Linked DNA regions of Homo sapiens. The protein of the gene in region 1 interacts with the protein of each later gene in a biochemical or structural test. Each region holds a gene or a part of one and is shown in the gene's direction. Other genes may lie near its edges.

What was found.
Region 2: the proteins of CCND2 (region 1) and RNF6 form a complex in vitro, tested with the Homo sapiens proteins (one study listed by BioGRID).

The regions. Positions count from the first base shown.
Region 1 is NC_000012.12:4,283,621-4,287,534, forward strand, and holds part of CCND2 (G1/S-specific cyclin-D2), read left to right. Parts: intron 1-3,914. UniProt on the Homo sapiens protein: Regulatory component of the cyclin D2-CDK4 (DC) complex that phosphorylates and inhibits members of the retinoblastoma (RB) protein family including RB1 and regulates the cell-cycle during G(1)/S transition.
Region 2 is NC_000013.11:26,220,196-26,224,109, reverse strand, and holds the start of RNF6 (E3 ubiquitin-protein ligase RNF6), read left to right. Parts: upstream 1-1,795; 5' UTR 1,796-2,107; exon of another isoform or gene 2,108-2,596; intron 2,597-2,779; 5' UTR 2,780-2,862; intron 2,863-3,914. UniProt on the Homo sapiens protein: E3 ubiquitin-protein ligase mediating 'Lys-48'-linked polyubiquitination of LIMK1 and its subsequent targeting to the proteasome for degradation. Negatively regulates axonal outgrowth through regulation of the LIMK1 turnover.

The DNA.
Region 1 (3,914 bases):
CCGTCATAAGCAAGCATGCAGCCCACAGCAGAGCTGCCCCTGGCGCCTGTGGGTCCAGCTGGGATTCCCCTAAGGTGTGTCCTTTGCCTCCACCATTTTGCCAGGAGGGAGGCGGGAATGTCGGGTGTTCCTGGTTATCTGGGCATCGTTCCTTGGCTCGGGTGAACTGCATCTCAATGAATTGTGGAATGTGCTGGGTTAGAGTTGCCAACTTCTCTCTTCCATTCGCTGAGTGTTCATGGGGTTCTTTTCATTCCCCTGTGGGGCTGCACTTTCTCCCAGTTCTGCAAAGCAGCAGGAGGCTTTGGGGACTCGATGATGTCATTTCTGGGACACATACACAACTGGATAGTGACAGATTCTCCAGGAAGCACAGAGCCCTCATTCTTCCTGGCCTGCTTGGCCTGCTCCCTGCATCTGCCTGCAATCCAGGGATGCTGGGCGCCTTTCTCCTCATCCCTCCAGACGCTGGAGAGCATCTCCAGTCGGAACTCCCCACCACAGTCCTGCAGGAAGTACTAGGAGTGAGAGCAGAGGAGGGGCAGGTTGGGGAGGATGCTGGCTGACATTCATTGCTTACCTTGAACCAGGCACTGTGCTTTTACAAGGATTATTTTAAGTGAATCCTCAGAACAGCACTACAACGTGGGTATTGCTGTTGTCATTATTTGCAGATCAGAAAATGAAAACTCAGAGAGGTCAGGTAACTTGCTCATCTTCACACACTTGGTAGGTGGTGGGATGGAGATTCCACCTCCTTCTGATTCCAGAGCTAATACTCTGAACCAGTGAGCTGTGTTCTCCAGAGGTCTGCTTTGGTTGGAGGGGAGCTGGAGCCCTAGGCCCTGGGACGGCCTCTGTTGCCCATGGCAAGGCGTGTGGCTGCTCCTGCTCTCTTCAGATCTCCAGATGCAGCAACCTGGAGAAAGGCCCTCCTGGGTCTGGTGGGGACTGGGGCAGGAGTGGAGGCTGCCCAAGCTCCGTGCACTCCACGTTCCAGCTTGGAGCTTTTTGAGTCTACTCTCCAAATCCTTCCCATCTCCCTGAAGAGTCTTCTGAGAAGTGTCTCAAATGCTCCTCTTCACTCAAGAGCCTCCTTTCTTTTTTTTTTTCTTTTCTTTTTCTTTTTTTTTTTTGAGACAGTCTTGCTCTGTCACCCAGGCTGGAGTGCATGGCACAATCTCTGCTCACTGCAACCTCCAACTCCCGGGTTCAAGTGATTCTCTTGCCCAAGCCTCCAGAATAGCTGGGATTACAGGCGCGTGCCACCATGCCTGGCTAATTTTTGTATTTTTAGTACAGACAGGGTTTCACCGTGTTGGCCAGACTGGTCTCGAACTTCGGACCTCAGGTCATCTGCCCACCTCGGCCTCCCAAAGTGCTAGGATTACACTGTGAGCCACTGCGCCCAGCCTTCAAGAGCCCCCTTTCTTTGAGAAGTTTCTTCAGAAGTTATCCATATAGTAGTACAGACCTAGCCATTATAGCACACCATCCTCTACTATCTAATGCATTGATGCCCAGCCTTAAGAAGTCTGAATATTGTACGTTTTGGGGGGAGTCCTCCATGCTGCCTGGAACAGGGAGGAGCACATTGTCATGAGTCGATCAGAATGGATCGCTGATCGGTTCATTGCCTCTCTCTCTGCTGCAGGAGGAAGGATCTCAGGAAGTCACCAGCATCTCACCTCTCCAGGTGGGCAATTAACGATGGCGAGGGCACACCCTCACCCCTGAGCGTGCCTTCTGCACCAGCATATTGCTTGTTGGCATTTTTGATCAAGAGACTTAACAGACTGCTGAGAAATTTGTACCTGGTTTTTATTTGTTAAAATAATATTACGTACAAATTTTACAAACTCATCTGTGTTTCTCCCACCTAACAGAACAGCTTTTATTTTCCGTGCATCCTTCCAGTTCATCCATAGGCATATATGTATGTATTTACCCATGGTTGTAATCTTCATCGTCGCATGCATGCATGCAATTTGGTTTTCCGCTTCCTTCTTCTGAGTGGATATTGTGACCATTTCTCCATCCTGTCATAGCGACAAAGCTGATGGTTTCCAGGAATGGCTGCATTGGGTAGGTGGAGCTTTCCACAGTTGAGGGTGGGGGTTGGCTAATTACAGCTAGGAAGCTAGTGCACAGATGAAATGATGTTTGATTTTTTTGTTTTTCTCTCTGTTCAGTATCCCCTACCAGTAGAGAGGGGGATGTCCTTGAGAGTGGTCCTGGGGCAGCCCTGGTGCCACGGGGAAGTAGCGCCGCTCTGTGGAGAGGGCTGCTTTGTGAATTTGCCGGCTGGTAGACACCGTGATCCATTCTATTGTCTCCTCATTGTTCTTCTCCTTGGGAGTCATTCCCATTCCAGATCCTCAAGTAAGAGCAAAGTAGACCTGTAAGGCACCTGGGAGGTTATCCTGCTTACTATCTTTAAACTCTTGACCTAAGCCATGTAGGAAGAAACACATTTTATAACACAACTCAGGATACTTGTACAAGTATATCAAACTGATACAAAAGTTTCTCCGAACAATATTTACTCTTAACGACATACGGTGAGCCTGATACTTTCTATCCTACTCTATTTGGTTAAAGGAGAACAACAACAGAAAGTGCTGGTCACGACCCACAAATGCATTTCATGACCCATTAATGAGTTGCAGCTAGAAGTTAGAAAAACACTTATCTCACCCAACCCGTTATTAGACAAATGGGAAACCAAGCCCTTGGAAAGAGGAAGTGACTTGCCCACAGTCCCACGTCTGGACCTAGCTGGAGGGCTGATGTTGCCTCAGTATTTGACTAACCTGGAGGAGAGGTGGGGCATGCTCAGGGATCCCGAGGAAGATGCTCGTCTTCTGTGTAGCGGGCAACAGAGGGCAGCACGGCCGCCGTCCTCGTCTCCAGCGGCGTCTCTCCTCTGGCTGTGGGAACACACTGCTCCTTTGGTGCCACTCTGAGCTGCTGAGAGGCAGTCAAGTTCATGCACATAGTGCTCCCCAATTCTGTGGGATTGGACAGTGTCCCCAAGAGGACTCCCCTGAAAATCTTCTTAGTAAAACAAAAAGGGAGGTAGAGTCTCCCTGTGCAACCGGTGCACCTGTTCCCCCTATGCCTGCTGGCTTCCAGAAGTTCATTCGTATGCCAATAATAAGAGTTGGTTTTGCTAGCAGTGGGACAGCAGAGATGGGCATGTGTGAGGTGTGCTTCCCGGTCTGAGGCCTATGGCAGAGGGAAGGGAGGGCCGGGGATACTTGCCTGCCTCTTCCCTGGCAGATGCTCCCACCCGGGCCTTTGTGGGCCCAGGGCCATGGGCCGGCTGCCCCGCTTGTGTTATGAATGTCACAGGGGGGAGCTAACGAGGTTATTGGGCAGAGAAACACTCTCCTGTGACCCATGTGGAAGAGACCTACAGCAGAGCAAGAGGCAGGGAGGCTGGCTTTGTCACACTGTTCATGGCGACAGAGAAGGCGTAGGAGGGGCGGGTGGACAGCAGGCGTGGGCGCAGCACCATTATATACGTCCCTCAAGAGGTGGAGATGGTGAGAGGGCAATGGAGAAAAAGCCAAGGAGACAGGCAGATGGCCAGGTTTGCTCTGCGTTCATGATGGGAGGGGAGGGCTGTGCTTGGCTCAGGGATCCACGGTGTCTAACAATGCTGCTAACTTGATGCTGGGGCAATGGGCTGACCATTAAAAGAGCTGCTGTAGAAAGTGTGTTTGTAATAGAGTGTGTACAGGAGGAAGGGGAAATAGGAGAGGGGCTGGTTTTTGTAGATTTAACCTGATTGTTTTTGCTGTAAGTTGAAGGGTGACCCACGGTTCCCTGTATGCTGTGTCTCCTGCCCCCACGTGCCCCTTCCATGTCTACACACAGTAAGCTCACTAGAGCAATGCTAAAACGAGAAA
Region 2 (3,914 bases), on another chromosome or scaffold:
ATGTCTTTTCCACTCAACATGTAAAAAGTATTTGCACTTGGATTATTGCATTTGATTGCACTCTCCAAAATTCACAGATATTAAAAATGATTTCTACTTGTTATTTTCTATGATGTGTGTTCACAATATCTGAAGTCGTTGTACTGTGTGCATTAATCCCGTTTGCCAAAAGATTGCATTTTTCTCTGCTCATCTATGCAGTAGGCTGAGGAGAATGTTCTGCCAAGTGCTGTGCTAAGTTCTGGGATTACAAAAATGAATTAGACCATTTGATCACACTTAAGCAGTTCAGACTCTAGGTAGTAAAGACCTAAAAACAGAAAATCATCTTAAGTATTTGCTCAATGGCTCTTTTTCCATGGGAAAAGAGGGCAAGGACTTCATTCTATGAGGACATGACTGTCTGATTCACGGCTGTCATCACCAGCACCTAATACATAGTCACACTCACTATTTGTTAAATACATGAATACATGCTAAAATAGGGTTTTATATATAGAGGGAGTATGGGAGCCCCCAAAAGGGACATTTGCTTAGTTTTATGTGTAAATATCGGGCTGGAGGGTGAGGTAAGGGTGTTATTTCAGAGGTATCAGGAAAAATTCCTTAAAGATGAGAACTGAGCTGAGTTTTGGGAGACAGAGGAAATTAGGTAAAAGTGGAGTTGGGGGTTGCTTAGGAGTTCCCATATCTTGTGGCGGAACTTCAAGCAGTTTCGGAGTGCCAAGACAACAGCCTGTAAATGTAAGCAGAAGAAAGATCTGGAAGGGCTTTCTAGGCTGTTTTATATATTTCCATTTTAGTATCCATATCCATATGCTTATTTTAAACACTTGTCCATAGATCCTTACTACACTGGTAGCTCATTGATGCTAAGGACTGCATGTAGCTTGTTATCCAGGTGCCCAGCATAATAATGGGGATATGGTAGTTCCTCAAAAGTTAATGCAGAAATGAAAGAACAAACGGAAGAATAACAAGTAACGGCATTGTGAGCACTCTCCAGTGATGAAGTCATCAGATGGTAGGGATGTCAGGAAAGGGGACTATACCAGGTTAGACAGAGACCTACTCAGCATCTTAACTAACGGTGAGGTAAGTTTAGTAAGCCTCACATCTCAGAAATAAAATCAGAGGGAGGAATGTTGGGAGTTTCAAACTGCTTTCCTAGCGGGAAGGTGAAAAAACACAAAATATAGTGGGGTGCGGTGCCTCATGCCTGTAATCCCATTTTGCTGAGGTGAGAGGATTGCTTGAGGCCGAGTACGAAACCAGCCTGGGCAACATAGCGAGACCCCCGTCTCTACAAAAGAAAAAATGTGAAATTAATGGCAAGCGCCTGTAGTTCCAGCTACTGGGATGAGGAGGGAGGATCGCTGGAGGCTGCAGTGAGCTACGATCGCTCTAGCCTGGGCGACAGGATGAGACCTTGTCTCAAATAGAGATAGACAGACAGACAGACTTCAGAATTTATTAGGGTTTGTAATTTCCAGGTTCCAAAGCACAGCAAGGGAAAGGGCCTGGCTGGGTAGTACGTTACACCCGGAAGTAAAGAGACGCATACACCGTTGGGTGCACTTTATAGTCTGGCTGGCAAACGAGCGACACCGACGCGCAGAGTTAAGTGCTGGGACTTCCCAAGCCTGGAAAGCAGACCGTGTCTCTGCAACTACGCGGCTGCCACGAGCGCTGAGCGGCCGGGCATTTGGCCTCGAGGAGGAGGCACTGTAAGGGCGGCGCAAGAGGGCGGAACGCGGGACGCCAGGCACCCTAGCTCCCGACGGACGCAGTTTTCAGTTGCACGGGCGAGCTCCGGGCCGGCTGCGGAGCGACTCCCCGCCGCCAAGTGGGCGGCGTGGCTGTCGGGAAAGAAGGGCTGGGGCCTGCCGTTCTTCCTCCCGAGTATCCCCTCCAGCTGGACGACCCCACGCTGCAGCACGGGCTTCCGGCTTCTCTCCTCAGTGGCCAATTCGAGGGCACAGCGGGCTCCGGAGGCGCGGCGGCAAGCCTATCCCGCCTCCCAACCACAGCCTCCAGCACCCGAGAGAACGGCCGCCCACAGCACACGTTCTCCGGACAGGAGGGCGAAGGCCCAAGACCTGGAGAGGTGGGCTCGAGGGAAAGATCTGGGTCCCACCACTACTTCCTGGAGACGCCGGGGAAAGCAGGCCATCCTTCGAGCCACCCATCTCTTCTCCGATTGGTTAACTGCCTTCTTATTGCGCTCCGCTGGCTGGTGATTGGTTGGGATGCACCGTCTATCACCTGCTTCCTTGTGAGAATCTAGGTCTCTAAGGGAAGCGTTACTTGAGGCTCGGTTGGGAAGAGGTTGGTTGGGCCTCTTGAGCCCACTTTATTTATCGTAGTGGGGATCGTCCCCCGGCGCGAGCTTCCGTCGCAACGGCCGGGAAAGAAACCAGTAGCGGGACGGAGGGCGGGGGTGGCAAGAAAGTCAAGGTTTAGAAGTAAGCCGGAGACGCCTAACCCTGGTAACATCCGAATGGGAACGGGATAGGAAGGAAGGCCTTTGAGAGAGGAGGCGTAAACCCAGGAACAGTGACAGTGTAGGACGAAAGGCCTAAGTTTGTTGCGGAAGGTAGGGGCCTTGCGGGAGGTTTTCGTGACCTAATTGTATGGGGATCTAATTTTCTAGATGTGTCTAACAAAATCCACTGGAGAATTTGCTTTGGCTTTGCAGCAGAGTGGGGAGACTACCACCCGTTCCTGGCCTTTAAAGAAACAGTTTATTGAATTATTCAACTCTCTTTTATTGCTTCAGATGGGCAGCTCTCAAAAAAGGCACAAACAATTGAAGGATGGATACCATGGCATATGTTAAAAGCGTGTTGAAAGGAAAATAAGGTATTCGCTTTGTTTTCATTGTGATTAACTGTATAAGAAAATTACCTTTAAGGAGAAGCTCAAGTTTTAAATAATATTAGGGTAACTTGATTTTATGATAGGCTTCAACTTGTAAAATTATTTATTACAAAAATCCTATTATTGCTGTACCTACGAAATATGCTCTTTGCTAATTATGGTCTTAATCTGAAGATAGAGATCTTGAGTTTTTAGTAGTGTTAATTCATATTTGAGTGGATAATGTTACTAGGTCATTTGTTCAAAATGACATAATAAAATAACCACAGTGAAAAAAATCCTTGAATTTGTAATTTAGTGTTACAGGTGAAATTGAATAGTTGCTTACTCCAACAGTATTTTAGACTTGTAGGCTAATTTCACCTTATATTTAAAGCAGCTTGCTTATTAAATACCTAGTGTATTTCGAGAGGCAGAGTTGCACAGTTGCTTCACTGGTAGCCTAGCCATTTGAGCCTCCAGCCTCTACTGAGTCAGGTGCTGTATTACTCATACCCTTTAGTGACATGCCAGAAATTGTCGAGGAATAGTTTATTTCATCTGCAGAACACCCAAATTAGCTCTTAACAGCAGACCTGGTCCTACCCTGGAAAACTCTAATCAAGGATTGGGGATGAGATTTGGGCATCTAGATTTTTAAAAATACCCTTAAGTGAGTTTGAGAACCATTGCTTTAGTGTGACTTACTGAATAGATGTATTTAAGAAATTCTAAAATATTTGTGAAACAAACATCTTTCTCTCTTGATTTCCATGTAATTTAAAAGTGAGCTTCTCAGGAGTGACACTTAAATATAATCCAAAAATAGTGGTTTCTTAGGCAAAGTCAGGAAGTTTCACTGGCATTCTGAAACTCCTGGGACTAACCATTCCAGGCTTAAGGATGAGGCTTGATATGGGGTGATACAAAGTGCTCTGATGCACTTTCACAATCCTTGAGCCATACATGATGTCTTGTTTCCTGTTGGGTTTCAAAGTCTTCCTGGTAAGCTTTAATAAGAGACCACCTTCCAGTTTGTTCAGTAGATATTAATT